Linked DNA regions of Homo sapiens: regions 1 and 2 are each linked to region 3. The links come from fine-mapping of genetic effects on gene expression. A gene starts in region 3. Each other region holds a variant in brackets. All regions are shown on one strand. Distances are from middle to middle.

Region 1 (5,000 bases), 24 kb before region 3:
TCCCTCCATCTCGGGAATGAGAGGACACCTGCCTGCACCACTGGGAATCAACCAAGTGTGTTGTCAGACCCTTCCACTTTCCTTGTGGTCTTCATGAAGACAAGAGCTTTTCATCATGGGCATCATCCTGCAGTGTTATTGAGTAGCTCCCAGTGGCTAGTAGGAAGTTACTCCAAATGATGTATCTGTTTGCCTTCTCTAGAAGAGTTCCCCATCTCAAGGTGAAATAACCGCTTTTTTTTTATCCTCCACATCCTAGGAATTTTAAGGGAGAGGAAAAATGAGAGGACTCAGGGGAGTTAATCTTCTCGCCATTTAGGAAAGAGTGACATTTATTAGTGTGAGCCTAGGCAGCCAGATGGATTTTGTTGGGAACATGTGCGGAGCCCCCTAGTGGGGTGGTGATGCTAGCCCGGGACCTGTAGGGGAGAATTCAGGAGCTGAACAGGGCGAGAAGCACTTATGAACTGGGGTCCCAGAGAAGGAGGGTCCAGGTGAAATAGCTTGCTAGAGTCAATCCTAGGTGCGTGCAGATGTCATCCTGTGTGTGACCACTCTGTAAATGAACCCTGGTGGCACGGGGTCTTCTCCTGTGCTTAGCCCTACCTCTCTGTTCCCTCTCAAGAGAGAGGAGGGTGTCAGCCCTGGCACCCTACTCACACCAGTCACTTTGTTGGCCTTGAGATTGTGTTTCTGGTCTGCCTCAGCATCTGACTTTCCACCCCGGGATGCGTTTGGTCTGTTTTGCCAGTTAGAGAACTGGAGACACCTGAGCCTGAGCTCCTTCCTAATGGTTACATTTCCCTGGTAGCATTTGTCACTAGGGCTTCTAAATTTGGCCATCAGGATTTCCTCAGGCTTGGAAGGTTAACACATACTGCCCAAGAGGGAGGCAATATAATGTAACATGGGTGCCTCAGCTTCCTCATCTGCAGAATGGGCTGAGGATAATACCTCGTCACGATCACCCGGAACAGGGCCTGGCATACTTTACCTAGCGACTTTGTAGGGACTTAGTGAATGTTCCCCAACAGATCTGTCACAGAAACTGTAAATATTGCCCTTCACCCCTTCCGCACCTCTTGCAGCAGTGTTATCCAGGAAGGTTGGAAACCTTAGGAGATGAAGGGGCCCTTTTCTCAGGGCACTCCAAGAGAACCCTCTCAGTGTCTTTTAAAATTGTCAAGGTCCCAGCTCATAGCAGTTCCTCATAAAATACCATTCCTGTGCCGGGCGCGGTGGCTCACGCTTGTAATCCCAGCACTTTGGGAGGCCGAGGCAGGCGGATCACGAGGTCAGGAGATCGAGATCATCCTGGCTAACACAGTGAAATCCCGTCTCTACTAAAAACACAAAAAAGTAGCCGGGCGTGGTGGCGGGCGCCTGTAGTCCCAGCTACCTGGGAGGCCGAGGCAGGAGAATGGCGTGAACCCGGGAGGCGGAGCTTGCAGTGAGCTGAGATCGCGCCACTGCACTCCAGCCTGGGCGACAGAGCAAGACTCCATCTCAAAAAAAAAAAAAAAAAAGCACCATTCCCTTTGCCATCCCCTGGACTCACTCCTCATCCTATTCCCCAAAAAGTGAGAAGGGCAGGCTGTGTAGATGGCATTCCTGAGAATGAGCCAGTGGAGAGCATCTGGCCCTGGCATGTGAATTCAAGCCTTTTCCCAGCTGTAATAACCACCCTCTTTTTTCCACAGGGGCTAAACTGCACGGTCAAGAATAGTAAGTCATCTTTTTCTGTTCTTCTTCTTGTTGCCTTCTTAATCAAGTGAGAGCCTGCTGCCAACTTCTGACAGAAGTCTTGCCATGCCACTCCAGGTTCAGGCTGTGAGCTACAGCCATCCGCAGGAGGGTTCCCGGAGAATTGTGGATGCGTGCACCTGCGCTTCCTGTCGAGAACATTCATTATGCAAAAGTCAGGAAAGGAGAAACAGAACTGTCATTTGGATTGTGAAAGTATTCTCTGGGGAGCTGCCCTACTGTATCTATAATATAATTTGATTTGCCACAGCTTGTCACTGTAAAGTGAGAGACATCTGTGCTGTTGATTTTGTTTTGTTTTAATTCAAAGAGGCACATATTCAAGTGTCTGAGCCAATTAGAGACCCCTGACATATAACAATAAAGCAGCTCTTACTACAACTGCATCCCTCCTGTGCCCTTATTCCCAATCACAACTTCTTCTCAAAATCAACTTGTGTACTTTGTCTTCTCTCCTAAAATTCCCTTTAGACTTGAGAGGTTTGCAGTGACCCCAGTAAACATTAGAGAAGAGGGAGCAGGGCAGTAAAGCTGAGGACGCGGCCAAGGGCCACAGGCTGGAAGGCCGCGGGCCCCTGAGCTGTTTGCTGTCTAGCTGTCTGTACCTGCTGCTGGGGCATCTCAGGGTCTCGGCTATAAGTCTCTGAATGTTGCTTTTCCCTGGCTGCCAGGTACCTGCCTGGATGACAGCTGGATTCACCCTCGAAACCTGACCCCCTCCTCCCCAAAGGACCTGCAGATCCAGCTGCACTTTGCCCACACCCAACAAGGAGACCTGTTCCCCGTGGCTCACATCGAATGGACACTGCAGACAGACGGTGAGTGGGCATGCCAGCAGGGCCCTGGGGGATTCTCCCTGCCTCCAAGTGGCTCTCCCAGTCAGGCTCAGGATTGGGCTCCCAGTCCTGTGCTCAGACATGGGGGTTCAAATTTAGTGCTATAAGGATCCGTCATTTCATGCAGTCAAATACTTGTTCAGCATTTTAGATATTAACCC[A/C]CAGTGATACCTTCTCATCACACCATTCTTCATGAAAGGACTTCCTTCAACCTAATATTTTTAGCACCCTGAGGGGAAAAAAAAGCAAGCAGTTAATTTTGTGACTACAGTACCAAAAATGAAGTGGAAAATGGTAACACATTTGTCAACCTGTTCCCTGAATTTAGGGGCCAGCACTTTTAAAACGTCCCCCAAGCCTATTCAGGAATGGAGAGTTTATGTTACAGAATTGGGACGATTGGGGCTTATGAGCACTAGCCCCAGATTTGTGAACGGGGCATGGGGGAAGTTCTTTTTGGAAGTCCCCGCCCTCAGTGCTCCTGCTGACAGCCACAACCTCGTGAGGATGGTGGGGATGGCTGTGTTTGACACCCATGCCAGATTGTCAAAGCCCTCACCACAAGTTTGCAAAGCCTTTACTTCTAGCCCAGTGTAAAGTGTCATTTTTCCTTGCCCAGCTGGGAAATAACTGTCTGCAAGGCGGTAGGCTGAGGCCAGAGAGTGAACTGAAAGGAACAGGATGTGGAGAGTTGGGTAAGACGGCAGATTTTCTTTTAGGAGTGAACAACCGCAACAGATAGGGAAGTGACACACCCAGCACTTGTCTTGGCTGATCTGCATCTGTTTGTCTTCTCTTCTCCCTCTCCTGCAGCCAGCATCCTGTACCTCGAGGGTGCAGAGTTATCTGTCCTGCAGCTGAACACCAATGAACGTTTGTGCGTCAGGTTTGAGTTTCTGTCCAAACTGAGGCATCACCACAGGCGGGTAAGAACACAGCTCCTGAGTGGATTATGTTCCACTGATGACACCAGTACAGACTTCTTGTCCCCAAATTCAGACCCTGATTTAGAGTGGGGGAGACCCAGAGGTGCTGAGGGAGTCTGTGGAATTCAGAATGGCAGCCTGAGATGGGCAGAAGTCAAAAGAGAAGTGGTGTGGCCGCCGTGAGCAATAGTGAGGGACAGAGCGTATTTTTGAAAGCGTCCCTCACCTGCTCACCCCTGGTTTTTCTTCCCACTTTACCTAGCTATTCGTTCGGAAAGGAAGTTGAATTGGAAGGCAGCTTCCACAGCCCTACCTCCTGCCATCTTTGTGTAACTTTGTGTAACATCTTTTATGTGTAACTTGGATTCAGCTGGGGCCTACCTTCAGGAAGAAAAAACCGCCCAGACCAAAGAACTGCTGTAGGTGGGCAAATGAGCACTACAACAGCTTAGTCTCATTTTGCTGCTCACAGCTAAATGGTGAAATGTTGATTCTTGTTTAAGTTTGTTTAAAGCAGTGGGTCTCAAAGTGTGGTCCGTAGACCAGCAGCCTCAGCCTCACCTGGGAACGTGGTAGAGATGTTTGGCCCCACCCCAGACTTCCCAGGCCAGAAACTCTTAGGGTGGGGTCCAGCAACTGGTGCTTAACCCTTAAGTCATCACGATGCGAGCCTTAGTTTGAAGACTACTGGTTTAAATCTGCAAATGGTCACTTGAAAACAAGTTAGATCTCCCACAAACTCAAGCAGCAAAGGCAGAACCCCTCTCCGATGTTAAATTAGGACCCCCAAACTTGACTGCTATGCGAATGGTGAGAACCAGGTTCCTCCGTCCACTTAGAAGCAAAGGACCCCGGCCCCTCCACCAGGGTAACTAGAATGGGGGTTGGAGTCGATGTCTGTAATCTCTAACACCCAGAAAATAACTTAGCACAAATTCAAATATCATTGCAACTGAGGTGCCTGCTGGCCCAGGGTGAGTGGGGGTCTCTAGCTTGTCCTTTGCACCTTTTTACTCCATAATGGTCTCAAGAGGTTCCTGGCTTTTCCGTTTGAGGAGGAAGAATCATTTGACAAATAGTTTTTACCTGCCTGGCGTGTGCCAGATCTCCATAGCCCCAAGTCCCCTGGCTCCGCCCTCTCATACCCATTGTCCTAGAATTTGAGAGGGCAGGTGGGAGGGGTGGGACTACTTCCACTTTCCCCAAATTCTTTTGCCTTATTCACTGTCTACTGATGAGGCCAGATCCAGGTTTAAAAAAAAAAAAAAAAAAAACAGGCAGAAAGGACCAGAGGAAACAAAAAACAAAGATACTGATTTCCCTGACCTTGGATTTTGCTGTGGTTGTTGCTTTGTTCTTATTTTTGGCTGAATATTCGGGAGTGGGTGGGAACGGGGGTCTTTGGGCATAGATGGGTGACAGAGGTGTGTGTAATCCATCCACCTTCCCTTCCTCCCTTCTCTTCAGTGGCGTT
Region 2 (10,811 bases), 59 kb after region 3:
CCTATATATTCTTTTTTATAATGTGACTTTGACAATCTTCTATCAAAAGTTGGGATCTCTGTCTCCTCCGCTTAAAACCAGGAGGTGTTTTTTGTTACTGTTGGGACCAACGAAGTATGGCAGAAATAATGCCATGTGACTTCCAGAATCTTCCATTTATTCCGTGGAATACTTACCCCAGAAGTTGAGGCCAATGGGAAGAAGCCCAAACTAGCCATAGGAGAGCACCAGCTGAGCCCTGGGGCTGTGCAGAGAGGTGACCCCTGGCGGCCCGTCAGCTCCAGCTCTGCCTCCACTGTGACAAGGACCTCATGAGAGACCCAGAGCAGAACTGTCCAGCTGGGCTCTGCCCAAACCCCTGACCCACAGACACTGGGAGAGATCATAAATTTGTTTGTTTGTTTTGGGTTTGGTTTTGAAATGGAGTTTCACTCTTGTTGTCCAGGCTGGAGTGCAATGGCACCATCTCGGCTCACTGCAACCTCCGCCTCCCGGGTTCAAGCTATTCTCCTGCCTCAGCCTCCCAAGTAGCTAGGATTACAGGCGTGCGCCACCATGCCTGGCTAATCTTGTATTTTTAGTAGAGACGGGGTTTCCCCATGTTGGTCAGGCTGGTCTCAAACTTCTGACCTCAGGTGATCCGCCCGCCTCGGCCTCCCAAAGTGCTGGGATTAAAGATGTGAGCCACCACGCCTGGCCCCATAAATTTTTATTTTTGTTTCAAACCACTACGTTTTGGGATAATTTGCTACACAGCAATAAACGGAACAGCAACCATGATAGTAATAGCAGATTTAGACAAAAGTCCTCAGTGGATGCAAGCACTAATGGGTAAAGTTTTAAGGAGGAGTGAAGACTTTTACATAAAGTGTCTCCTCTCCAAATATGTGTTAATTACTAAGGGAAAAATGGTAACTTCGCAATGGCAAATTCTGGCAGAAATCAACTTAAGCGATCAAAGTCAGTATCATATTGAGACAAATTAACATTGTATGCATCAGTATGCTGGCAAATGTGTAACAGCTGGCTGGTGGGGACATGGATTTGTAACATTTGCTGATTTTTGTGGCACAAAAACTCCCACAAGCCTGGTGTCGTGGCTCATGCCTGTAATCCCAGCACTTTGGGAAGCCGAGGCGGGAGGATGGATTGAGGCCAGGAGTTTGAGACAGGCTAGACAGTATAGCATGATCCCATCTCTACAAAAAGTAAAAAGAAAGAAAACTTAGCCGAGGTGGCGGTGCACGCCTGTAGTCCCAACTACTTTGGATGCTGGGCAGGAGGATTGCTTGAGCCCAGGAGGTAGTGGCTACAATGAACAGCGATCCTGCCACTGCACTCTAGCCTAGGCAATGGAGTGAGACCCCTGTCTCAAAAAAAAAAAAAAAAAAATTCCCATCAAGACCAATTCCAGACTCCTAAAGGTTTAACAACAAGCTGGAAGTATAACACTTGGCCCCATTCATGTGCCCCTGGTGTGTACACTGAGAAGGACAAAGCCTCGCTGCCAAGGTGCTCCTCTCAAAAAGGTATCCCCTGAGCCTCTTCCTAGGGAAACATTAGATGAACCTGAAATGAGGGATAGTCTATGAAGTAACTGGCCTGTACTCTTCAAAAATGAGGTTCCAAAACACAAAGGAAGACTAAGAAGCTATTTCAGACTGAAAGAGACTAGAGAGTTGACAGCTAAATGTAACTTGTGATCCTGGATTGGGTTCTGGACCAAGAACAAAACAAAACAAAGCTCAGCAGGGCCAGAGCCAGATACTAGCGTCTTTTCAATGTTAATACTTTTCTGATTTGATTGGATGTACTGTGGCTCCATAGGAGAATGTCACTGTCTTTAGGAAATGTGCACTGGAGAATCTAGGAATAAAAGGCATAATATCTGCAACTTAGTCTCGAGTGGTTAAAAAAAATAGGATATATAGAGAGAGCAATTAGAAACAGAGAAAGAATGATATATGGAATCAAATGTTGTAAAATGTTAATAACTGGGGGAACCTGGGCAAAGAGAATGTTAGAGGTTTGTGTTGTTGTTGTTGTTATTTTTGTTTGTTTTTTTGAGACAGGGTCTCGCTTTATTGGCCAGGCTGGAGTGGAGTGGTGTGATCTCAGTTCACTACAACCTCCTCTTCCTGGGCTCAAGCAATCCTCCCACCTCAGCCTTCTGAATAGCTAGGACCACAGGCACACCCCACCATGCCCAGCTAATTTTTGTATTTTTAGTAGAGATGAGGTCTGGCCATGTTGCCCAAGCTGGTCTCAAACTCCTGGGCTCAAGCAATCCACTCGCCTCGGCCTCTCAAAGTGCTGGGATGACAGGCGTGACCCCCTGTGCCTGGCCTGGTAAGAGTTTTTTGTACTATTCTTGCAACTTTTTGAAATTATTTCAAAATGATCAGATAAATGCTCCATGGACATTTAGTTCAATAGGACTAGGCCTATGCAATGAGGAATAAAGTCAAGAAGGAAGAACTAACAAGCTTTGTAAGTTGAATTTAAAAGCTTAAAGACTGGATGTGGTGGCTAGTGCCTGTAATCCCAGGTATCCAGGAGGCTGAGGCAGGAGGATAACTTGAGGCCATAGTTTGAGATCAGTTGATCAGCCTGAGCAACATAGTGAGACACTGTCTCCAAAAAAAAAAAAAAAAAAAAAAAAGGCCGGGTGTGGCAGCTCACACCTGTAATCCCAGCACTTTGGGAGGCCGAGGCGGGCAGATCATGAGGTCAGGAGTTCAAGACCAGCCTAGCCAACACAGTGAAACCCCGTCTCTACTAAAAATACAAAAATTAGCCAGGCGTGATGGCAGGTGCCTGTAAACCCAGCTACTCGAGAGGCTGAGGCAGAAGAATTGCTTGAACCCGGGAGGCAGAGGTTGCAGTTAGCCAAGGTCGCGCCACTGCCCTCCAGCCTGGGCAACAGACACTCTGTCTCAAAAAAAAAAAAAAAAAAAAAAAAAGAAGGAAGAACTGGACACAAAGCACAAAGGCAAGACTATTGCTGGTTCATTTTGCCAAATCAGAGATCACAGCAAGTCCAGGCCAGAGGCTGTTTGCGTCTGCCTGTGTTGGAGGTCCCCTGCGCAGTTGGGACCTAAAAGATCTTCAGGGATTGGGTAAGGCACTGAATCACCTGCAGAGTTAGACAGGACCCTAGAGGTTGTCTTCTTCCATCCAGGCACAGCTTATGGTTGCTGTTTTTTCCCAGTTCCAGGAACCAAATGGTGATAAACTAGGAATGGAGAGAGGGCTTGCTGCTGTCTGAGAGCTCAGGTACAGGTCATGGAAGATGGATGAGAGGACATTCGCCTGGGGCTTTTGAGGAATTCTTTGATTCCCTGCCATCCTTGAGTTGGGTGAGGACAGAGGTGGCTTCTTGCATCCTTCTTCCAAGGCCAGGTGAGGAGCTGGACTCTGATCACATGAGGTCTTTTATTTGGGGCGGCTCTGCTCTACTCCCCTCTGCCTTGGCAGCTGGCTGAACAGACACAGTGACAGCCACTCATTCAATGCATTGTTTATTGAGTACTAACTAGCTTTGGGCCCAGGCTCTGGGTTAGCAGCATGCGTGAAACAATCAGAAACAATCATGAGCGCCTGCCCACATGGGGCATACAGTCTGGCAGGGCAAGACTGTAGACACAGAAATAAATATCCGATTATAAGCTGTGATTAGAGGCATGATGGAAAAGAGCAAGGCTTCCTGAGAGAAACAGGGCGAGCACAGGAAAACCTCTCTGAGACAGTGACATGAACTTGAAACTTGAAGGGTAAACAGGAGTGGGCAAGACAAAAGGGGAAAGAAGGAATCTTCCAGGCAGAGAGAAAGAGAAAAGACCCAGGCACGGTATAGAGCCGAGGACATTTGAGGAAGAAAGGGCCGCCGGGGTTGGGGCCCTCTGGGTGACTGGGAGAGGAAGGCGCCGGAATGGATCCAGATTAAATCGGATGCTGTATGCCCTGTGGAGACATGGGGTGTACCTCTAAACGCACTGCGTTGTAAGCAAAGGAGTGACCTGATTTAATTTGATCTTTTAAAAGTCATTCTAGGCCAGGCCGGGTGGCTCACGCCTGTAATCCCAGTGCTTTGGGAGGCCGAGGCGGGTGGACCACGAGGTCAGGTGTTCGAGACCAGCCTGGCCAACATAGTGAAACCCCATCTCTACTAAAAATACAAAAATTATCCGGGCATGGTGGTGCATGCCTGTAATCCCAGCTACTCAGGAGGCTGAGGCACGAGAATCCGCTTGAACCCGGGAGGTGGAGGTTGCAGTGAGCCGAGATCGCACCGCTGCACTCCACCCTGGGCAACAGAGCGAGACTCCATCTCAAACAAAACAAAACAAACAAACAAAATGTCATTCTACACTGTGAAAAATGAGCTGGAGGAGGCAAAGGGAAGAAAGGGGAGATCAGTGAGGAGGCTGTTGTCATAGCTCAGGCAGGAGTATGGTAGCTTGGACTTGGCAACAGCGTGCAGGTAGAGCACCACCGCTGGAGTCTGGATGCGGGATGCATTCTGATGTAGGGAGTGGGGGACCGCGCAGCATCAAGAAGCCACCGCTGGAGTCCAGATGAGGGATGCGTTCTGATGTAGGGAGTGGGGGACGGCGCAGCATCAAGACTTGCACTGAAAATTTCTGCTTTGAGCAACTGCGTGGAATGGATGGAGGTGTCCTTCACCAGCTATGGGAAAGGCCAGGGAAAGGTTTAAAGGGCTGAGTGTGGTGGCTCATGTCAGTAATCCCAGCACTTCGGGAGACTGCGGCAGGAGGATCACTTGAGTTGGAGACCAGCCTGGGCAACATAGCAAGACACTCTTTAGAAAAATTAAAGTAGAGAAAAAGAAAGGTTTAAAGGGAAGAGACTGAGGGTTCAGAATTGTACCTCATCAGTTTCTGAGATTCCTGTGAGCTCTCCAAGTGCATAAATAAATGTGGGAATCATTAACAAATAAATGGTATGAAAAAGCAAAGGAATGGATGAGACCACCCAGGAAAAGTGTACAGAGAGAGAAGAGAAATAAAGAGGAGAGAGTTAAAGAGACCAGAATAGGCCAGGCATGGTGGCTAATGCCTGTAATTCCAGCACTTTGGGAGCCAAGGGGCGAGTGGATCACCTGAGGTCAAGAGTTGGATACCAGCCTCGCCAACATGGTGAAAACCTGTCTCTACTAAAAATGCAAAAATCAGCTGGGTGTGGTGGCACATGCCTATAATTCCAACTACTCGCGAGGCTGATGCAAGAGAATTGCCTGAACCCGGGTGGCGGAGGTTGCACTGAGCTGAGATCGCACCATTGTACTCCAGCCTGGGCAACAAGAGCAAAACTCCATCTCGAAAAAATACAAAAATAAAAAAATAAAGAGACCAGAATAGAAGAGAGCCCAGGACTGAGTCCTGAGGAAACAGCACAGAGATCAGAGAGAGGAGAAGACTCTGAAATAGGGAAACTGGAAGAAATGGCCAGAGACAGGAGAAAACCAAGAGGGTCAATGTCACTGTGGCTGAGAGAGAATATTTCCAGAGGATGAATTTGCTCAGCCAGCCAAGTGCTTCTCACAGGGTCGCTCCATACAGAGGCCATTGATTTCATGGGCACATGGAGCTGATTCAAGAACGAGTGAGAGGAAGTGACAGCGTGTGCAAGAAGACAGCTTGTAGAGGGCTGGCTAGCTTCTCCTCACTTTGTAGCCACATCTGCTATGAACTTATCCCATCTCTTCTTCCAGATTTCCATGAAAGTATTTTTCTCACTCTCCAACAGGGTACTGTACCTGCAGGAAGAGGAGGAGCCCAGGTCAGCCTCAGGGCAGGGGTTGGGGAACGGGGCAGGGAGCCTGAGAGGACATTAGAGCCTTGCAGAGCACTCTCCCCAGGCCAGCAGCAAGGACTAAACAGCCATGATGAGAAGGAACCCACAGGAACCATCGAGGCATCTGCCTCAAGCCTCCAGAGAGGCAAACACAAGCTGCGGGCTGGAAGGAGGCGGGGGACCTGGGAGGACACAGGACACTCACTTGATAGAGTTCATGGCCAGCTGTTTGAGGGTCCTCAGGTCAGCCTTCATCCCCCCAATGCCCATGAAGACCTCATAGAAATCATAGGACAAGCCTTTGGCACCAAACATAGCTGGGTCATCAGAGCTGATCACCATGGGGTGCCCAGTGGCCATCAGAGTGGCTACAGGGTGGTTCCTCAAGTCAGACACCAGTTTCAGCACCTGCGCAATAGGAGGGAAGGGAGAAAGATGAACTCTGATCCCTAAAAAGAGTAGTCACAAGTGAGGTGAGACCTTGAGCCCCATCAGCTCCCTTCATCTTCCCATCACTATCTCCCCAGTATGGGGATGACTTCTGGGCAGAGTCACAAGGAGACATAAGGAACAGAGCCAGTCCTTATGCTCCTCCTCATGTTTCATCAGCACTGCAAACATC[G/T]GGTCACTTCTGTTCCTGCTCAGAGAAGCGCTAACTGAACACAGACACAAAGGACCCCAAGAAACCATGGGGAGCAGCATCCCATGGTCCGTCCCACTTCACTGGCCTCCCCCCATGTCCTTTTTGCTTTGTCTACAGTCTTGCCCAAAATTCCACCCCACTGGGGACCCTCACTGCTGCCTCATTCTTATTGGTGGCTTAGGCAAAAGGCCCCTCCTGAATAACTTTACTAACAGGGGTAGGAGAGTGGAGGGATGTAGGTAACAAGAGAGTTAAGGAGAGATAAGTTATACAGCAAAAAGTTTAAGAGAGCAGAGGTTGTGGTTAGGGGAGATCATATGGGATTAGCCACATGGGTCACACATACCTGGTTAGAGATGGGACAGACTTCTATGGGGATGTCCTTTTTCCAGGAGTAAGTCCTGACTGCGGGGTGTTTGCTCAAAGCAAATCCATGGCCGATTCTGGTAGTGTTCAGCATCAGAGCATCCAGAATGTTCCTGTCTATGGAAGTACCCTGCCAGTCTGAACACACGGGAATGGTCTTCCATGGGGGATGGATGGGTCTGGTCTTCCATGGGGGATGGATGGGTCTGACCCACCCGCCCCCCGACCATCCTCAAATAAACAGCCCCCCAAGCACAAAAATGAAGAGAAATTAACATTAACACAAATACACACACACAGTTTCCTTTTAACAATGCTAAAGAGAGGTATGATATGGCTTTATTAAATTAATCATCTAATTTATTAATTTATCATTCTAATGAGAAAGTTGAAACTTAATAGCTTCTATAAATTGACCAAGGATGTTCACACAGTAAGTAGCAAAACCGAGTTTTTTGTTGTTGTTGTTGTTGTTTTTTGAGACACAGTCTTGCTCTGTCGCCAGGCTGGAGTACAGTGGCACGATCTCAGCTCACTGCAACCTCCACCTCCCAGGTTCAAACAATTTTCCTGCCTCAGCCTCCTGAGTAGCTGGGACTACGGGCACACGCCACCACGCCCAGATAATTTTTTGTATTTTTAGTAGAGACAGGGTTTCACCATGTTGGCCAGGATGGTCTTGATTTCTTGACCTCGTGATCCACCTGCCTCAGCCTCCCAAAGTGCTGGGATTACAGGCGTGAGCCGCCGCACCTGGCCTGCAAAACTGAGTTTTAAACCTTCGTCTCTCTGACCCCACAGTCCGCTTTCCTTCTTCCTCTTTTGTGGCACTCTTTTTTTTTTTTTTTTTTTTTTGAGACGGAGTCTTGCTCTGTCGCCCAGGCTGGAATGCAGTGGCGTAATCTTGGCTCACTGCAACCTCCGCCTCCCGGGTTCAAGCGGATTCTCCTGCCTCAGCCTCCTGAGTAGCTGGGATTACAGGTGCCCACCACCATGCCCGGCTATTTTTTGTATTTTTAGTAGAGACGGGGTTTCACCATGTCGGCCAGGCCGGTCTCAAACTCCTGACCTCAGGGGATCCACCCGCCTAGGCCTCCCAAAGTGCTGTGATTATAGGCATGAGCCACCGCACCGGGCTCTGGGACTCTTATGCTTATGATCTTTACAACAATATGTTACAGGTTCTCTTATTGACAACATCAGTATAACTACCTGTATGTGCTCACTTTAATTTATATATTTAATAGTACTGTCAAGATGTTATCACTCGCTAGATGACCGCAGACAGTCTTGTGGCCTCCCTTCTCCCCTGCCATCCCCATCACACCTTTCTTTTTTTTTTTTTTTTTTTTTGAGATGGAGTCTCGCTCTGTCACCCAGGCTGGAGTGCAGTGGTGCAGTCTCGGCTCACTGCAAGCTCCACTTCCCGGGGTTCATGCCATTCTCCTGCCTCAGCCTCCCAAGTAGCTGGGACTACAGGCGCCCGCCACCACACCCAGCTGATTTTTTTTTTTGTATTTTTAGTAGAGACAGGGTTTCACTGTGTTAGCCAGGATGGTCTCGATCACCTGACCTTGTGATCCACCTGCCTCAGCCTCCCAAAGTGCTGGGATTACAGGCGTGAGCCACCACGCCCGGCCCCATCACACCTTTCTTGCAGCTAGGGCCCTCGGTAGAGGATGAAAGGTCAGATGTGCCTTTCTCAGTCTCCCTTACAGCTAAAATAGCCTTAACGCTGGACTGGGAGGTTATTTGTTGGGGAGCTTTGGGGGATTCCTCCCTGATAAAAGGGGATCCACTGGGAGGCTGTCTCCTATTTTGCTTCACTGGATGTGGTCACCCCAAATGTGATTCACCATCCGACAACCAAGTGGGGCAGAATCACCCACACAATGGGCATAGCACAGATTGCTTCTTACGTGAGATAACAAATGTCCTTATTGTAAAATCGGTGGGATGCATGTACTCTATTCTTGCAGCCATAAGCATTCTAATGGATTCACATATAAAATATGAACATCTGGCTGGGTGCGGTGGCTCACACCTGTAATCGCAGCACTTTGGGAGGCTGAGGCAGGAGGATTGCTTGAGCCCAGGAGTTCAAGGCCAGCCATGGGCAACATAGAGACACCCTGTCTCTACAAAAAATACAAAAATTAGCCAGGCATGGTGGCATGTGGCTGCAGTCCCAGCTACTTAGGAGGCTGAGGTGGAAGGATAACCTGAACCCAGGAGGTGGAGGCTGTAGTGAGCTGTGATCACGCCACCACACTCTAGCCTGGGTGACAGAGGTGGAGGCTGTAGTGAGCTGTCATCACACCACCGCACTCTAGCCTGGGTGACAGAGTGCCCATGTCAAAATATATATATATATATATATATATGAAAACTCCACTTTCCTGATAGAAATAAAACTCAAGAATTTCCATTGCTATGTAGCACATGTGTTTTGGTGGATTTTCACTGGTTTTTAAAGATTTCTTTTTCTTTTTAAAAATAAGGATATTGGCCGGGTGTGGTGGCTCACACCTGTAATCCCACCACTTTGGGAGGCCGAGGTGGGCGGATCACGAGGTTAGGAGTTCCGGACCAGCATGACCAACATGGTGAAACCCCGTCTCTACTAAAAATACAAAAAATATTAGCCGGGCGTGGTGGCAGGCGCCCGAGTAGTCCCAGCTACTCGGGAGGCTGAGGCAGGAGAATGGCGTGAACCTGGGAGGCGGAGCTTGCAGTGAGTTGAGATCGTGCCACTGCACTCCAGCCTGGGGACAGAGCGAGACTCCGTCTCAAAAAATAAAATAAAATAAAATAAAATAAAATAAAAAAATAAAAATAAGGACATTACTTTTAGGTATTAGATACCCAAGTCCTGGCAAAATCATCTCCAAGGACCATACATCTTGGAACCTGTTAGGTCCTGAGCTGCAATGTTTTGTAGGGCCAGAATTATTTCACACACATAAGTATGATTTTCCCCAACCAGACCACAAGCTCTTCAAGGTTAACAACACCCTCGCCCAACCCCCTCCCCCTCAAACAATTCTTCTGCTCTCCTAGAGCAGACTTTGATCTAAATTGGATCTAAATTGACTCGAAATGTCAGGAAAAAGAGATTAATGCACAAGGTCCCTTTCTCTGAGAGAAGGTGTGATAGAGCAGAGCTTAAGCCTGGGTGGGAAATGAAATTGCCCACCACTCTCTCCACCCCTCTTTGGTCTTCCGAGGGTGACAGGTGGGATGCTGAAGAGAGCTGCCCTCCTGGTCCCGGCCTCCATGTGAACAGCCTCCTCCCAAATCTTCCTTTGGATCTGAAATTGCAGCCGTGATCTTTCTTAGTTAGGGTTTACACATTTTAAGGACTGGAATACGGGAGGGGCTGAGATGACTGAGCGAGCCCAAGGATGGAGTTCTGGGAAAGAAAGATGTGGCTGGGCTGATGGCGTTTCAGGAGGAACAGCAGCCAGGGCCTGCATGGGGCAGGGCAGGGTTTCCTCTCCTACGATAATGCGGGACAGAACATCCTAAAGACAAGGAGCAGACCTGGTTCTCCTCCCTCTTCTGCCAATTTCCAGCTGTGTGGCTTTAGGCAGATCAGTTAACCTCTCAAGCACAATTCACTCGGAGGATGGAGAGCGTCAGAAAGTGTTCCAATTCATACACATTATATACAGGCATCAAAATATCACATGAGGCCGGGTAATCCCAGCACTTTGGGAGGCCAAGGCGGGTGGATTGTTTGAGGTTGGGAGTTCAAGACCAGCCTGGGCCAACATGGTGAAACCCTATCCCTATTAAAAATACAAAAATTAGCCGGGTGTGTTGGTGGGCGCCTGTAATCCCAGCTACTCGGGAGGCTGAGGCACGAGAATCACTTGAACCTGGCAGCCAGAGGTTGCAGTGAGCCGAGATCGCACCACTGCACTCCAGCCTGGGCGATACAGTAAGACTCTGTCTCAAAAGAATTTTTTTCCGTGGCTCAAGC
Region 3 (10,811 bases):
TTTTAAAAAGAGAAGGAAAAAAGTGATAAATGCTAGTGAGGTGCCACTTCCCTCCTTCTTCCAGGCTCTAACCGCCAGCTAGCTCTCTTTCACAAAACCCACGGATGCAGAATCAGGACATGTTAAAATGGAACAGTCTTTAGAGAGGGTCTAGTCTTTTTAAAATAAGTAAGGATTTGGGGACTAACAGAGAGGAAGCCCCTGACTTGCTGAATTGTTAGGAGCAGGCGGTTCTCGAGATTCTGAGCCCAGGATCCTTTTCTGTGAACCATGCACGTGCTGGCACTGGCCTCAGGAGACAGTGCCCTGCCTTGGCTGTCAGGTCCACGGAGAAATCTCAGGTTTGCCCCTTCACTAGGGATGCCCTAGAAAGCAAGGGCAAAGGAAGCTTTAGGGGTCATCGTGACTGGGGCAGGGGAAGTGAGTGCAAGGACTCAAGAAAAACACAGCAGAGGAAGGGACTGACCCTCTGAGCACACAGTGGTTGACCCACATGTGTAAAAGAGGGTGACTGGGGCTGAACTGGGGGCCTGATATCTGCCAGAATTGGCCAAGTTGCCATCAGCTTCTTGACATATCCAGGGAAGTGGCAGCTCATTGGAACTTATCACAGCCTCCCACCAAAAACCTAACAAACAGTACAGAGATTTTACAGTCAGGGAGGCCCAGCAGGAGATGGCCATCCAAACAATAGAAGGGGGGCAGATCAGGGGGCCAGCCAGCGGCTGGCCATGGCTCAGACACAATGTCCTTTCACAGTCACTGAGATTAGGTAGCAGAGAAACACAGCAAAGCTGGAGAGAGGACATGGGAACAGCGAGCAGCTGTTGGTACCCACCCAGGGCCCAGGCCCCAGAACCTTGAGTACAATCAAAGGGAGAGGAGAGGAGTCAGTGGGGGCAGGGGAAGAAGGCAGAAAAAAATACCAATTAAGTGTGAAATCCAGCCAGCTATTGGGCCACATAGGGTGAGGGACTGGAAGCACAGATTGTGCATGGAGTGTAAACATTTTCCCCCGCTGTTCCCTGCTCTGAGAGCATGAGGAGGCTCAAGAGAACTCTGGTCAAGCCTTCTGCCCCTCTTATGTCTGTCTACAAGGGTGTCTTCTGCTCCAAGCCCCCAAAACAGTTGTAAGAGGGGGCTTCAAGTGGGAGGCGGGGGCTTGGCCTGGGTGCTGAGTTAACGGCCAGTGACTTGGCACTTCTGACCCTCCCTGTGCACTCTGCAGCTGTGCCAGGCCCTGCCCCACACCCAGCCCAGGCACCCAAGCCCTCCCTCCGGCCTTCTCTGCTGGGGCTTCACACACCCAGTACAGAGCAGGGAATGTTCTGCAAGTGCAGCCTGGCTGGCTTCTCTCCCAGCCACCTTTACAGGGAGCATCAGGACCAGGGCTTTCAAGAGCCACAAACTCAAAAGAATGTGAGAGCTGAAATTACCTTCAACCTTAGAGATCACTCATCTAACTTCTACTTTTTTAATGTGAGAAAACAGGCCCAGGAAATAAAAATATGTCACTCAAAGCCAATGAGTGACAGAATCAGAACTAGAATCCACATCTTCTGGTAACTCGTCTAGAGTTTGTTACACTACATAAAACTTCCCAAACGTAAGAAGGGAGAAGGGGAAACAAAAATTCTTCAAGTTTCACCCCCACCACATCCTGTTGAGGGTGGAGGGAAGTGAGTATTTCCTGGCCTTGTTAGCTGCTGTCCTCCTGCACCCTTAAAATATGTAAAAATACTTATCCTGCCTCAAAGACTGCAAGAGTGACATTCCACACCGACTGTAAGTGCACAGTCCCCGGATGTCTCTTGTCATCACCCTCAATGAGAGGAAGAGGGAAAGTTCTGCAGCCTGCCTTGGCCCTAGTGAGACTCTTAACCAGACCAGAGGTGGGAGGTCACCACCTCACTTTCTGATCTACACTTCCTAGAGGAAGGACAGGTGGGGAATGGGGCTTCCTACTCCCTTGGGCCCATGGGAGGCCCAACTTCACATCCATCCAGGAAACCCACCAAAGCTATTACTCTAAGCCCAGATCCGACCCAGTCGGCACCAAACCACAGGAAGGATAAGAGTTCTAGGTGCAGAGGGAGGAACAGAGAGAGGCCAAGCCAATGGCTGATACTCCGCAGACCCTGTAATAACACTGGCACCAAACCCCAGCTGGAGCCAGTGGCCATGGCAAATGCAACTTCTGAGTATTTTGTCTTCATTTTTTGCAAGCAGCATCAGTGCATGATGCAACAAAAGTTGAAAGCACGGAGGTAGAAATGCTCACTCACCCAAGAAAGGGTGCAGTTTGGTCCTTAGAGAATGGATCCCCTCCTCTCCCTGAGCTGAGAAGAGAGGAGCAGTATTGAGGAAGATCCTGGGTGAGATTCTCCCTTCAAGGGGAGTACCTGGGCAGCTCCCAGGGGCCCAGCTCTTCCTGGGAATTCATGGTCACAAATCCAGGCAGAAAAGAGGAGGGTGGTGATAAGTATGGTGTAGGGGGCAGGGCCTCCCCAGATCTCCTACCCATTGCAAAGGGCCACAGGGTGGACACGAGAAAACAACACTACACACACAGAGACATACACTTTGTATCTATCACCTGGAAGAAATCCAAGAGACACATCAGTGGAAAGTGGGTTCTGGGTCAATTTCAAGGCATGGGACAATGGCCACTAACCACAGCCTAAAAGAGGCTGGCACTTCTAAGCAAGGGAGAAGGTCCAAGGCCCAGCACCCCTCTCCTCCTAATGGATGGGAATTAGAGTGGAGGTGGGCAAAGCAAGAAGCAGAGGTACCAGCCCCTTGGAGGTCAGGATTGGGGTAGGATAGGAGAAGAGAGGAGAGGGTAAGTGCACCTACCTCCCTCACCGTTAACTGCTGGTCTCCCTCCAAGCCGTCCTCACCCCAGGGTGCAGAAGAACACCCTGGCCCTTAGCCCTGAAAAGGGTTACCTCTTCCAAATAGACCCTGATCAAATCTAGGTGACAGAAGGTAGAAGACAAGGGGGTTGGGGACTCTCAACCCAAAAACAAGGACCCGTGCCCTTCACCCTCAATTCTGAGAGGCCACAGCCAGGGTGTTGACATAGCCATGAGCACCCCCCTCGTTCTCCGAGATGCAGTGGCCCAGCTGGGAGCCTCCCTGAGGTGGTGGCGGAGGTGGTGGAGGGGCGGAGGGCGGAGCACCGTAGCCCCCTCTGGCCCGACTCGGGGAGGCCCGATTGCCCCGGTCCCAGCAGCCCTCCAGGGCCTCCAGGCCCCGGCAGCCGAGGAAGAAGAGGTTCTTGAGCATGAAGATGGAGAGGGGCTGCTGGTAGCTGACCACCAGGAGGCAGCGCAGCGCCAGCAAGGGCACGTCCACCAGGCAGCCGCCCAGCAGGCGCAGAAGGCGGCTGCAGCTGCCAGGCCCGGAGGCCTGGCCCCAGGATGCAGCCGCTGCGGCCGCGGCGTTGAGCTCGTAGAGCCAGAGCACCGGCGAGGCGAGGGTGAGGAAGTAGACGGCGATAAGCAGGTAGCGCAGGTGCGCGGGCAGCGGCACGCGGCCCTCCAGCATCAGCTCCACCAGCGTGAAGCTGTCGAGCAGGTCCAAGCACGTGCCCAGGAAGCATCCGGCCGCGCGGTGCCGCTGGGGCTGCAGCAGCAGGGGTCCTGCCGATCCCGGGGGCGCGCCCGCCTCGCTGATGGCCCGCACCAAGCTGTAGAGCAGGGGCACCGACAGCGCCATGGTGAGACGGAAGCCCGTGGTGCCGAAGGGCGCGCGTAGCTCGATGAGGTCTAGGATGGACGTGCCCAGGATCAGCACCACCTTGGGAGTGAAGGCGATGGAGTAGATAAGCCAGGCCAGGTAGGCGAAGGCGAACTCGCCCGCTGCCGCGGCCGCCCCCAGGCCGCCCCCCGCGCCGCCGGCGCCCCCGCGGGCTCCGCGTGCCTTGGCCCCAGCGGTAGCGGCCGAGGGGGCGGGCAGATGCAGGGGCGGCGCGGCGTGGTGGTGGTGCAGGTGGTGGTTGTGCGCGCCGCTGGCTGCGCCGCCCCGACGGCCCCGGCTGTTCTTGGCGAAGAAGATGGCCCAGCCCACCACCACCACCAGGTCAGTGGCGATCCAGGAGCACCAGTACAGGTCGGTGACGGCGATGAGGTACAGGTCCAGCAGGCCGCCCTGCGCCAGCAGCAGCACCACGGACAGCGCCTGGTAGCCCCAGCGGCACCTGGGACTGGGGGCGCAGCCGCGGCGCCGACCTCTGCGGCCGGGGCGGTCTGGGCAGCCGCAGCAGCAGCAACACGGGCAGCAGGAGGCGCCGCTGCCGGTCCCGGTGCCGCCCGCGCCCCCCGCCGAGCGGCTCCCGGGGCCCCCGACGGCCCCGGCCGCGGCGCCCCCGCCGAAGTCCGCGGCTGTCATGCTGCAGGAGGAGGTGGGCGTGGAGGTGGAGGAGGAGGTGGCCGCTGAGGAGGAGAAGGCGACAGGCGCGGGGCCGGCGGGGGCGCCCACCTGAGCCGGCGGCCCCAGGAGCGCGGCGTTGGGCACCAGCGGCTTGCTGACGCTGAGGCTCTCGTCGTCGTCCTCGCGCTCGGCGCCCGTGCTGCTGCTCGGGGAGCCGCCGCCCCCGCCGCGTCTGCCGCCGCCTCCCCCGCGGCTGGTGCTGGTGCTGGTGCTGCTGTCGCCGGAGCCTCTCCGGCCGCGGAAGGAGCCCCCGCGGAGGAAGAGGGGCTGCAGCCGGGCGGCTGCCGGGGGCGGCGGGAAGGAACCGGACGCGGAGGAGACCGAGCGAGGGTGGCCGAGCGCCGGGCGCATTGTCCTCCGAGGGGCTCTGGGGCCGCCCAGCTGTTCCCTCCCCGCCAACCCCGGGCGGGCGAGGCGGGCTAGGCGGCCGAGGGGAGCCGGGGCCCGCCGCCTCCCCAGCAGTGGGGACTCGCACCTGGGCCGGGCGGCGGCGAGATCCGGACTGGAGCCACTGGACTGGGCGAGCCGGGCCGGGCGGCAGGGAGAGGGGGCAGGCGGTGAACCGAGCGGACCGCGGTGAAGACAGGCGAGGCGGGGGCGGGGCGGGGCGGGGCGGGGAGCGAGTCCCGCCGGGAGGGAGGGAGGCTGGCGGCGGGGAAACCAGGACTGGATTCGAGGGGGAGAGGAAGCAGCGAGACCAGAGGAGGAGAAAGCGCGGCGCGCTGGATCAACGGGAAGAGAAGGGGCGGGGGTGCAGTGCGTCACAGTCGGGTCGGGAGCCCTGTGGCCTGGAGGAAGCGGGAGGAGGCGCGGGCAGCCGCCAGGGCGAGGCGACCCGGTGCGGGGGGACTCCCATGGAGCGCGGACTCCTAAGGAAGTCGCTGGGAATCCCACCGGCTGTACCGCAGGGCGTTAGTACCTAGATGGCTTCGGTGCCCCCAAGCGATGGGCTCAAGCTACAGGGCGGGCTTTGCACCTGGCCTTCTCAGCTCTGAGGCAGGCAGTGGGCAGCTTCGCCTCCACCCTCCGTCCAGCGCCCTTCCCATGGGGCCATCCGCCTCTCCCTAAGGCACTAAAAACCAGTGGAGGAGTCAGGCCATGTTGGCAAAAAGGGCTCGGGCAGCAGCCCCAGACCTATAGTCCTAAATATCCATGTACCCAGCCCTGGGGTCGCGAGCCATCTCAGGGACGACCCGATTCCAGCGGATGGAGAAGTTCCCTGAAAACACCTGCCTGGGAGGAGAGACGAGGGAACGAGATTGGGCAAGTGGCATCCGCCCAGCGGGCTTCTCAAAGGTTTTTAAAGCAGAATGGGACGTAATAGGAAGATGTGTCTAGCAGAGAGTAAAATAAAGGGGCATTTAGAGGTGTGGGCACCTGGATGAAAACAAAGGCTCCAAAGGGATGATGGTGAGGGTTACAGCCCACCACAGTAGACAGAGACACCAAGGAAGGAATGCAGTCAGTGGCCCTGCGTAGACAGTCTCAGGAGAGAGCACACCAGCTCACCCCAGGACTCATCCAAGGCTGGGGATGGATGTCGATGCAGCAACTCTGGAAGGCAGAAGGTAGAGTGCTGCCTTTAGGGGTTTAAGGGAGAAGGAAATGACTAGAGCAGTTGGGGCTCAAAAACAATCTGAGGTTCACCAATAATGGAAACATCCCATTCCCAGCCCCATGAAAACAAGGCAGAAAGCTTGCCTGCCCTATTGGCCTCTGCACCCTTGTGGGGCCTGTGGGCTCCCTGATTTCATGACCTTTGAAGCTGCTGCTGCGGGCTCATCTCCCCTAGGTAACAGCTTGCAGCGTGATAACACCATGCAGTGTGAGGGAGCTGTATGCAGTGGAGCCGCAGGGGTTAGTCAGGCCTCGCCCCTAAATCTGCCTCTTAAATAAGAGTCCGTTTCAGCCAAACCTGCCTTTTCCAGTTCCGTGGAGGTCAGTCTGCACAGCCAATCCCTGGTAAATATACAATTTAGAACCTGCACCATCTCCACCTCCCCCACACACACCACTTTTGGAAAGCTGGCATGGTGGTGAGGGCAGGAGCTCTGGGGCCGCCATCCCACCTGTGCCACTTAACACCTTTGTGGTCTTAGCCTGAATATTTCACCTCAGAATGTTGATCTGTAAACAGGACCCCACCCCAGCCGGGCGCGGTGGCTCACGCCTGTAATCCCAGCACTTTGGGAGGCCGAGGCGGGCGGATCACCTGAGGTCGGGAGTTTGAGACCAGCCTGACCAACATGGAGAAACCCCATCTCCACTAAAAGTACAAAACTAGCCGGGCATGGTGATAATCCCAGCAATTTGGGAGGCAGAGGCGGGCAGATCACCTGAGGTCAGGAGTTTGAGACCAGCCTGGCCAACACAGTGAAACTCCGCCTCTACTAATAATACGAAAATTAGCCAGGGGTGGTGGCACGCACCTGTAATCCCAGCTACTCGGGAGGCTGAGGCAGGAGAATCGCTTGAACCCGGGAGGCAGAGGTTGCAGTGAGCCAAGATTGTGCCATTGCACTCCTGCCTGGGCAACAAGAATAAAACTCCATCTCAAAAAAAAAAAAAAAAGGACCTCACTCCTACCTTAAGGGATTGTTGTGAGTATGAAGAGAGATCATGTGTGTAATCTCTCTTCGATGACAGAGCCAGTCCCTGGCTCAGAGTCCATGCTCAGTTAAAGGTCTCTGTGTTATCATCATTCCATTAGCCCATGCCTTAGCCTCCCAGGGAACATCGACTCATAGCAGGGGCCACCAATGGCTGTTTTCTGCCTGGACTCTTGAGTTCTGCTCCCCAGTAGCGTTGCACTTTGGTAAGTGCCCAGGAACAAAGCTGCCATGGTTAGGAGCACTGATTCTTGGAGCCGGTCTTCTCAGGCTCACAGTGTGAGACATTCAGGGTGCCAGTTGGGGCCAGGGTCCACCCATGTGGGGCAGGGTGAGGTCAGGAGTTCAAGACCAGCCTGATCAATATGGTGTTTCACCAATACTCCGTCTGGGGGGAAAGCAAACAAACAAACACTTCAGTCCTACCTGAGGTGCCCAAAAATAAACAAACAAACAAAAAACCTGGCCGGGCACATTTGAGATCAGCCTGGGCAAGATAGCAAGACCTCATCTCTAAAAATAATTTTTTTTTTCAAGACAGAATCTTGCTCTATCCCCCAGGCTGTAGTGCAGTGGTGCGATCTCGGCTCACTGCAACCTCCGCCTCCCGGGTTCAAGCGATTCTCATGCCTCAGCCTCCCAAGTAGCTGGGAATACAGGCGCCCGCCACCACACCTGGCTCATTTTTGTATTTTTAGTAGAGACAGGGTTTCTCCATGTTGGTCAGGCTGGTCCCGAACTCCCGACCTCAGGTGATCTGCACGCCTCAGCCTCCCAAAGTGCTGGGATTACAGGCATGAGCCACCACACCTGGCCATAAAAATAATTTTTTTTTTAAGTAGCCAGACGTGGTGGCATGTGCCTGTGACTCCTAGCCACCCAGGAGGCTAAAGTGGGAGGGTCATTTGAGGCCAGGAGTTCGAAGTTACAATGAGCTATGATCATGCCACTGTACTCCAGCTTGGGTGACAGAGCAAGACCCTGTCTCAAAGAAAAGAAAAGAAACCTTTAGATTTCAAGTATATAGTAGTCCTCCCTTTATCCATGAGGGATTCATTCCAAGACCTCCAGTGGATGCCTGAAACTGAAGATATACATATACTATGTTTATTTTCCTATACATACCTATGATAAAGTTTAATTTATAAATTAGGTACCATAAGAGATTAAGAATAGTAACTAATAATAGAACAATTATAACAATATATTATAATAAAAGTGTATGTGAATGTGGTGCCTCTCTATCTCAAAATATCTTAATATTTTCAGACAGTGCTTTACCATGGAACTGAAACCATGAAAAGTGAAACTGCAAATGGGAGAGACTGCTGTATAGTCACTGAAAAATTAATGGATGAGCTCAACAGCAAATTAGACACAACTGAAGTGAGTAAATTTAACAATATATATGAAGACATTCTCTAGAATGTAGTACAGAGAGCTAGAGACTGAAAATATCTAGGAGACAAGAGACATGAGAGATAGATTGGAATATCCAAAATATGTCTAACAGAAGCTCCAGAAGGAGAATATAAAACAATAAGGGAAGGACAATACAGAAATTTGAACTGAGAATTTTCCAAAATTGGTGAAAGAACTTCTCCAACCCACAGATTTAGGAATTGCAATGAATCCTAAACAGGATGAATAAAAATAAACATGCTCCGAGATGTTTTCAAGTAAAATTGTAGAACTCTAGACAAGAAAAAGATCTTAAGAGAAATCAAACAGTAAAAAAAAAATTACTTACAACAAACAACAATTAGATTAATGGCAGACTTCTCATCAGAAATAACAGAAGTCAGAATGCAGTGGATGGTAGAAATAAAGCTAAATAATCAGTAATCACAATAGATGTCATATTAAACGACACATGATCAGATGGATTTTTTTTAAATGTCCAGTTATAGGCTTTTATAAGAAATATCCCATGGCCTGGCATGGTGGTTCACGCCTGTAATCCTAGCACTTTGGGAGACTGAGGCAGAAGGAACCCTCAAGCCCAGACTGGGCAACAAAATGAGATGCCATTTCTACCAAAAAAAAAAAAAACCATTTTTTTTTTTGAGGGACGCAGGTTTTGTTTTTGTTTTTGTTTTTTTTAATGGAGTTTCACTCTCGTTGCCCAGGCTGGAGGGCAATGGTGAGATCTCAGCTCACCACAACCTCCTCCTCCCAGGTTCAAGCGATTCTTCTGCCTCAGCCTCCCGAGTAGCTGGGATTACAGGCATGCGCCAACACACCCAGCTAATTTTGTAATTTTAGTAGAGACGGGGTTTCTCCATGTTGGTCAGGCTGATCTCGAACTCCTGACCTCAGGTGATCCTCCCACCTCGGCCTCCCAAAGTGCTGGGATTACAGGCGTGAGCCACCATGCCCGGCCTTCAAAAAATCGTTTTTAATTAGCCAGGTGTAGTGATACATGCCTGTAGTCCCAGCTAGTCAGAAGGCTGAAGTGGGAGGATCCCTTGAGCCCAGGAGTTGGAGGTTGCAGTGAGCTATGATCACGCCATTGCACCCCAGCCTGGGTGACAGAGCAAGACCCTGTCTCAAAAATAAATAAATAAAAGAAAAAGAGAAACATCCCTAAAATATAAAGACAAACAAAGTAAAAAAGGGCTGAAGAAAAAATACACAAATATAATTTAATGCATGTATATAATTAAACTAGGCAAATATCAACTTTAAAAAGTGGGTTTGGCAATATTAATACCAAAAAAATAAACTATATGACAAAGAATATTCTTAGGGATAAAGAAGTTCACTATGTAATGATAGAAGACAGTACACCATAGTAGTGAAGGGCACATACTCTATAGCCAGACTACCTGGATTCAAACCCTGACTCCACCATTTAGTTTTATTTTATTTTTATTTATTTTTTTTATTTTTTGGAGACGGAGCCTCACTTTGTCACCCAGGCTCGAGTGCAGTGGCACGATCTCGGCTCACTGCAACCTCTTCCTCCCAGGTTCAAGCAATTCTCCTGTCTCAGCCTCCCAAGTAGCTGGGATTATAGGCGCCCGTCACCACACCCAGCTAATTTTTTTTTGTATTTTTAGTAGAGACAGAGTTTCACCATGTTGGCCAGGCTGTTCTTGAACTCCTGACCTCAGGTGATCTGCCCACCTCGGCCTCCCAAAGTGCGGGGATTACAGGCATGAGCCACCGCGCCTGGCTGACTCCACCATTTAGAAGCTGAGTGACCTTAGGCAAATTACTTAATCTCTCTTTCCTTGATTTTCCCACTAGAAAATGGGGAAAATAATAGTACCCACTTCACAGAGTTGTTATGAGGAGTAAATGAATTAATAGATAGAAAGTGCTCAGCACAAAGTGCTATATACATATTTGCTGCTGTAAAAGGACCAAGTTCCAGAAAGACCATAGTTCTGAATGTGTGTGTATTCAATAACATTGCCCTAAAATATATAAATAAAAATGGGTAATATTTATGAGACACTGGCAAATAACCTAATGATAGTAAGAAATATAAACACATCTCTCAGTAATTGATAGTTCACACAGATAAAACATTGGTACAGATGTATACAAGTTGAACCATATCATTAACAAGCTTGATCTAAATGGCTGAATTTAGAGCTCTGTACCTCCAAAACTAGATACTACACATTGTTTACAATTTTACATGCAACATTTACAAAGCCTGACCATGTACAGACCAATCCTTTGACCTCACAACAATTAGATTAGAATAAAATAACAAAACAACGACCAACCACCCCCCACATATTTGGAAGTGTAAAG

Evidence for each region. PIP is the estimated chance that this variant, and not a neighbour inherited with it, causes the effect.
Region 1: its variant is the best candidate, but not a certain one, in a credible set for the expression of TMEM121B in whole blood (INTERVAL, PIP 0.79).
Region 2: its variant is the best candidate, but not a certain one, in a credible set for the expression of TMEM121B in cerebellar hemisphere (GTEx, PIP 0.88).

What each region holds. Positions count from the first base shown.
Region 1 is chr22:17,095,362-17,100,361 of GRCh38, forward strand. IL17RA (interleukin 17 receptor A) reads left to right here. Exons shown (of 13, transcript NM_014339.7): 2 at 1,701-1,725; 3 at 2,436-2,582; 4 at 3,414-3,526; 5 at 4,994-5,000. Among named protein-coding and RNA genes, the nearest start is that of IL17RA, 13 kb to the left of the region's middle. The variant A/C (reference allele first, on the strand shown) is at 2,762.
Region 2 is chr22:17,175,798-17,186,608 of GRCh38, forward strand. ADA2 (adenosine deaminase 2) reads right to left here. Exons shown (of 10, transcript NM_001282225.2): 8 at 6,807-6,964; 9 at 6,023-6,225; 10 at 2,993-5,779. The coding sequence ends at 5,686. Among named protein-coding and RNA genes, the nearest start is that of HDHD5-AS1, 22 kb to the left of the region's middle. The variant G/T (reference allele first, on the strand shown) is at 6,440.
Region 3 is chr22:17,116,343-17,127,153 of GRCh38, forward strand. TMEM121B (transmembrane protein 121B) reads right to left here and starts at 5,018. Exons shown (of 1, transcript NM_031890.4): 1 at 1-5,018. The coding sequence starts at 4,785. The coding sequence ends at 3,049. LINC01664 (long intergenic non-protein coding RNA 1664) reads left to right here and starts at 5,253. Exons shown (of 4, transcript NR_103793.1): 1 at 5,253-5,697; 2 at 8,313-8,429. RefSeq lists a silencer at 4,730-4,859 and an enhancer at 5,445-5,976.